Regions from separate parts of the Homo sapiens genome. Here region 1 is linked to region 2. Evidence: fine-mapped expression QTL. Tissue or cell type: whole blood. Region 2 holds a variant in brackets; the other region holds the start of a gene. All regions are shown on one strand. Distances are from middle to middle.

Evidence for each region. PIP is the estimated chance that this variant, and not a neighbour inherited with it, causes the effect.
Region 1: it holds the start of LYVE1, and the variant in region 2 is fine-mapped to the expression of LYVE1 in whole blood (TOPMed, PIP above 0.99).

The regions. Positions count from the first base shown.
Region 1 is chr11:10,567,234-10,569,993 of GRCh38, reverse strand. It overlaps LYVE1 (lymphatic vessel endothelial hyaluronan receptor 1), which reads left to right and starts at 1,329. Exons shown (of 6, transcript NM_006691.4): 1 at 1,329-1,546. The coding sequence starts at 1,462. All of the region lies in intron 1 of IRAG1-AS1 (IRAG1 antisense RNA 1), which reads right to left.
Region 2 is chr11:10,597,652-10,600,411 of GRCh38, reverse strand. All of the region lies in intron 15 of IRAG1 (inositol 1,4,5-triphosphate receptor associated 1), which reads left to right. It overlaps IRAG1-AS1 (IRAG1 antisense RNA 1), which reads right to left. Exons shown (of 4, transcript NR_046375.1): 4 at 480-721. Among named protein-coding and RNA genes, the nearest start is that of LYVE1, 30 kb to the right of the region's middle. The variant G/A (reference allele first, on the strand shown) is at 1,330.

The DNA of each region.
Region 1 (2,760 bases), 30 kb after region 2:
TATGGCTGGTGATCACTGTGACTCTCATTCTCCTCCTTGACACAAAGCCTTGCCTTCCCTGATTCATTCTTCCCCTTCCTGTCTTCCTTCGTTCTTTTTGCAATAAGTGAACAAATGCTAGAAAGCTAGCTCTCTTTCGGGCATGGTGTTAGGCTTTAAGAATAATCATGAAGAGGCCAGGACTCTGCCTGTCTGCCTCCCTGGTGCTGTGATGATAGAGTCATGCATGTTTCTGAGAAACTGGGGCTTGTGCTCACCCAGATCATGAGGTCGGTATTGGAGATGTGTAAGGGCTGTTACCCTGGTCTTTTAGAAGTTCCCTGCATTTGTTTAGAGCAGATTCTCTTTTTGTTATTGATATTTTTCACACAAATATCTAACTTTATGACCAGTACCACTTATATAAAAAAGAATTCGTTATCCATATACTTTTCCTATAAAAGACATTCATTTTGGAAAAATCTCATAAACCTTTGCCCAAGACATTGCTTACAAGCCAGAACTCCATAATTACCATGAAGCAAAAACCACTGAAAATCCGGCTGGAAAAACATAGAATACACTCTGCTGGTACACAGCACAGATAAACCTCATGTTCATCGAACAACAAAGGTGGAGTCTGACTTGAATTCTGGCCTACCAGAATATGAAAGGAGTTATTAAGAGAAAGTTATTTCATAAAAGACCCCTGTGGTGATTACTATTGTAAAGTTAAAAATCCTTGGGGAAAGTGTAAAATGTTTAATTTTGTAAATTGCCCTCCTACTTGTGTTATGTAAATGTGAATGTTTATATGTGCCTGGTTTCTTTGAAAAAGGAATCACCTGTAGTGGTGTAGAGATTTCAAATGTGTAAAAGGAGACTCAAAGGAAGGCAGAAGGTTCTAGACTCAGTATTTAAGTGGACATTTACTTTCATGAGCTTCAGCATCATACCCTGCAGATCACAAGGCCGAACAGCTGGGTGGAAAAATCACTGATTGCGGGAGGAAAAGAGGCACAACCTATGCTCAGTCTCCTTTAGGGACAGAGATGTTTCTAGGAGTACATAAACGATGGACTCCACAGGCAGTAACAGTGAATGGTGTGAGAACTGAGCTGCTGGGGGAGGAGGAACAGCAGGGAATATGGGAATTGGGAGAACCTTTAGCAGTTCACACTGTGCTATCTGCCTTCCTCATTTGTGTGTTTTCTGAGTCAGCATTAGCTAAATTTTCCAGAAGGCCATCCACAAAGTACAGCCTGGGCGTTCAAGGGACGTCATTCATTTCCCCCAGTGACCTTGACAAGTCAGAAGCTTGAAAGCAGGGAAATCCGGATGTCTCGGTTATGAAGTGGAGCAGTGAGTGTGAGCCTCAACATAGTTCCAGAACTCTCCATCCGGACTAGTTATTGAGCATCTGCCTCTCATATCACCAGTGGCCATCTGAGGTGTTTCCCTGGCTCTGAAGGGGTAGGCACGATGGCCAGGTGCTTCAGCCTGGTGTTGCTTCTCACTTCCATCTGGACCACGAGGCTCCTGGTCCAAGGCTCTTTGCGTGCAGAAGGTAGGTTTCTCACCAGATTTCCAAACTGAAGCAAGGCTTCAGTCCTAAGCCTCCTAAGCTGTTGACTATGGATTTCTGGGAATGAGGGTGACCCTCAGTGTCAACAGCAGGTCTAATTGGTGGTACTGCTCTGCCAAAAATGTACCACCATATTGTCAACTTCACCAAAATGATTGACATTTACGTTTGTATCATCTGGACTTTTACTTTTGGTTATGGAATATTTTTAATGAGGACATTTTGAAATAAAACACTGAAGAGAAACCATTTGATTTTTACTCTTTTTTGTATGGGTGGTATTTAAATTTTTTGTAGCAATGGGATCTCGCTTTGTTGCCCAGCCTGGTCTTGAACTCCTGGCTTCAAGTGATCGTCCTGCCTCAGCCTACCAAAGTACTGGGATTGCAGGCATGAGCCACTGCATCCAGAAGTAATAATTTTTTTTTAAGTATTTCATTGAAGACGCAAACCATGATTGTAAAAAATTTAAAGCAATCACTAAGCTTGGGAATAATGGGTAACTTTCACTAAAATTGGCCTGTTTTTATGTTTTTTGGGAGTGTTAGCATAATTATTTTAATTTTGATTTTATCATACCATGAATGAGGTGCAATGTTTTAAAAAAATATTCAGTAAATAGCAAATTAGCTGAAAAAAATCTGTAAAAATATAAGTTTGAAAATTAAGCCATCGGCTGTCTACTAAAGGAATGACTTAAAGTGATCGCTGGGCTTTTGAGATGCCTAAATGGAAACCTCATTTTGCACTGTAGGCAAAAAAATTGTAACCACAAATCACTCATTGCAGCTCTGGGCAAATGAAAATCTGAGCACTTTAATAGGAAAATGTGTGTTCCTATGCTGGAAGATGACCTGAGATATAAAATATGCTAGAAACAGACATTCAGAGTTGATTTATATGTTGTTGCATTACATTTTATAAGAAAGGTCAGAGTTATATGATTAGTTTTTTAAAATACTGTTACTTTCAAATAAGTTTGGTCCTCTTTGAAATCCTCTGGGGAGACTATTTTTCCCCACAATGCTGCCATTATTCAAACTATTGGACACTGTTTTTTGAAAATGACTCCATCACACTCTGGACTATCCTCAGCAAGGGAAAAAGATTTTCTAGGGAAATTACATTTTTGGAAACAACCAAAAGTCAGCATAACCATGACTGCAGAATAAAGTAGTTGATGAAGGTAAGTGAAT
Region 2 (2,760 bases):
AGAAAACCCCATGAAGATGTTCTTGCAACAGTCCAGGTGAGGGGTGAAACCTGGGCAGTTAGGGTGGAGTGAGAGTCTGGCTGAAGGAGATGTTACGGAGAAAAACAGCAGACTCATGGGTAAGACAGAAGTTTCAAAGAAATACTCTTGTTTAGAAGTTCTATACGAATTGCTATAGGAGCACGGGGGAGGGCCCACCTGATTCTGCTTGAAGGGAGACAAAGAAGCCTTCAAAGAGGGATGGTATCTTGTTGGTGTTTTAAAGTAAAAATAGGAGTTCTCCAGTCAATAGAGGAAGACACATCCCAAGTGGAGAAACCAGCATGGACAAAGGTGTGGAGGTTGGGGGTGAAAACAAGATGAAACAAACAGTTTGTCATAGTGGCAGTGTCAGGGTGTGGAAGTGAGACTTGGTTGACCAGGGCCACACGCCAGGCCATGCTAGCAATTTGAGCCTCTAGGCAACGGGGAGTCATTGGTAAGTTTATACCACATGAGGTAATCAGCCTTTATTTTTAGATTATTCTGACTTCAGTGGACAATATATTGGAGGTGTGCAAAAGCTGAGGTAAAGAGAGACACAGTAGGAGGCTCTTTCTCAGTCCAGCAGGAAGAGGTTGGTGCCTTGGACCAGATCTCTCCATGGGCACTGTCAGGGTTTGAACTCTGGCTGATGAGGGTGGCTAGCAGGAGAAAACAGACCTTTTAGCAACAGGAATCCCTGTGGAATGCAAACATCCGTGTTACCAAGAGCTGCAGAAGGGAAAGTACAGAAAGTATAACAGATGGAGAAACCTTTATAAACAGGAGGTTTCACAAGTTTCCTGGAGAATATCAGTGACATGTCCCAGAGTCCAAAGGCAGCATGCACACATGCTCCAGACTGTCAGCTTTGGATCTGTCAGCAAGGCTCCTGACCCACATGCACCTAGGCCTCTAACCATTTTCCGTCAGTGTTGGAAGCTGAGGAAGTTGCCGCCAAAGGAATCCTAATGCGTGGACTCCTGCATTTATTGCTGCACAAGGCCTCCTGCAAACCACCTTACCTAAGATTTATAGGATGAGCAGTTACCCATGAGTCTCATTCGTTCATTCTACAGACATTTATTGAGTACCTTTGGTTTGCCCTATATAATACTGGAATATAGAGGTAAAGGGCACACAGTCACAGACCCAAAGGAGCTCCCAACCTTTGGGAAGTCAAGGCAGTGTAGCCAGTGCTATGACAGAAGAAAGCAGACTTCCGAGGAGAATACACCACAGAGTCCCACATTCACTCTAGGAGGATGAGAAAACGCTTACCGTAGGAAAGGTCAACGATAGCTGTAC[G/A]TGTTTTTCTGATATTTGTTTCCACTCCAGTTGTTCTTCCAAGCTATACCTCAGCTTGGGCTAGGCAGAGTGGCCGTAACCACTCAGCAGGTGTTTCCATAAGATACTCTATGACTGTTCCCTAATAGTGTTTGTGTCTTAAGCCTTTATACAACCTCTGCAATCTTTGTCTATGCCTGGGGTTTTGAAGACTGCAGTAAATAAAATATCCCTGATTTCAAGGAAGGTGATATACATTTTTTAAAAATAACATGTTTCTTTCTGAATATGAAATTTACCAATTATCTGCATTTTAGATTATTTCCTTAGTGTAGATTTCTAGAAGTATGAATACTAGCTCAGGGGAAATAAATTTTTTAAGGCTCTTAAAGCAAATTATTTTCAAATAACCCATTTATGTTTTCACTGAATGGGTTACAATACTCAATTCACCGTGCCATTGACACAATTCTTGTTCTTTCTTTTTGTAAATATCCATGACTTTGATAGGCCACAATTGTGTCTTGTCTTATTGTTTTAATTGTATTTCTTGGCCTTTCCAAATGTTTATGGAACATTTGTATTTCTGCTTTTAAAAATTCTGTATTTATGACCTTTGCCACTTGTAAGCTTGGTAGTTTACTAATTTATATGAACTCTTCACATGTAAAGAATATTTTCTGGTTCTGCTATTTTGGCTGACTGGAAAACTTGAAAATCTTTTGACCACAAGCACTTAGAAATTGCTGCTGGACAAAATAAAGCAAACCTTTGTCTAAATAGCTGAATCCACAAGAAAATAAATTGAAATACCCAGATACAAGAAAAGAAAAGAGAACTGAAACCAAGCTGACCCTGCAGCTTCCTTAGGGACAAGTGTCAGCCTTGGTTATCTGGGAGCTGAGCTTTTGCACTTGCCTGTGGTCTGAGACAAGGCCTGGAACACCTATGGTAGAGAGTTGACACAGATTCCCACAGAAAGTTAAGGGCGTCCAAGGACTATATCCTCAGATGGAATTTGGATAAGGAAAAATAATAATCACCAACCAGCAGAGAAACAAGGAAATTTGTTTCACCCTGGACTGTAGTAGGAAAAAACACTTTCTCCTTCCTCATAGGGAAAGTACGTGCTCACAAAGTGACAGCAGTGATGATGCAATATGCAGAGGATTTGAAAAGAACAGCAAGATGGTGCTTCTAAGATATGTTAGAAATAAGCAGAAAAGTACTCTGGAGAGACAGACCCTGCATCTGGACACACAGGATTCCTCTAATAAAGCCTCACTGAAGATGACTTCACAACTTAAAATTATAAAATACACAAGAAAACAATTCATCATGAACAAAAGTCATCAGTTACACAAAACAATAGGATTATATCCTAAGAACCTCGGAAAATAAAATGATCTGACAATTTTTTTAAGATAAGCTTAAAATTGTTACAGGTAGCTG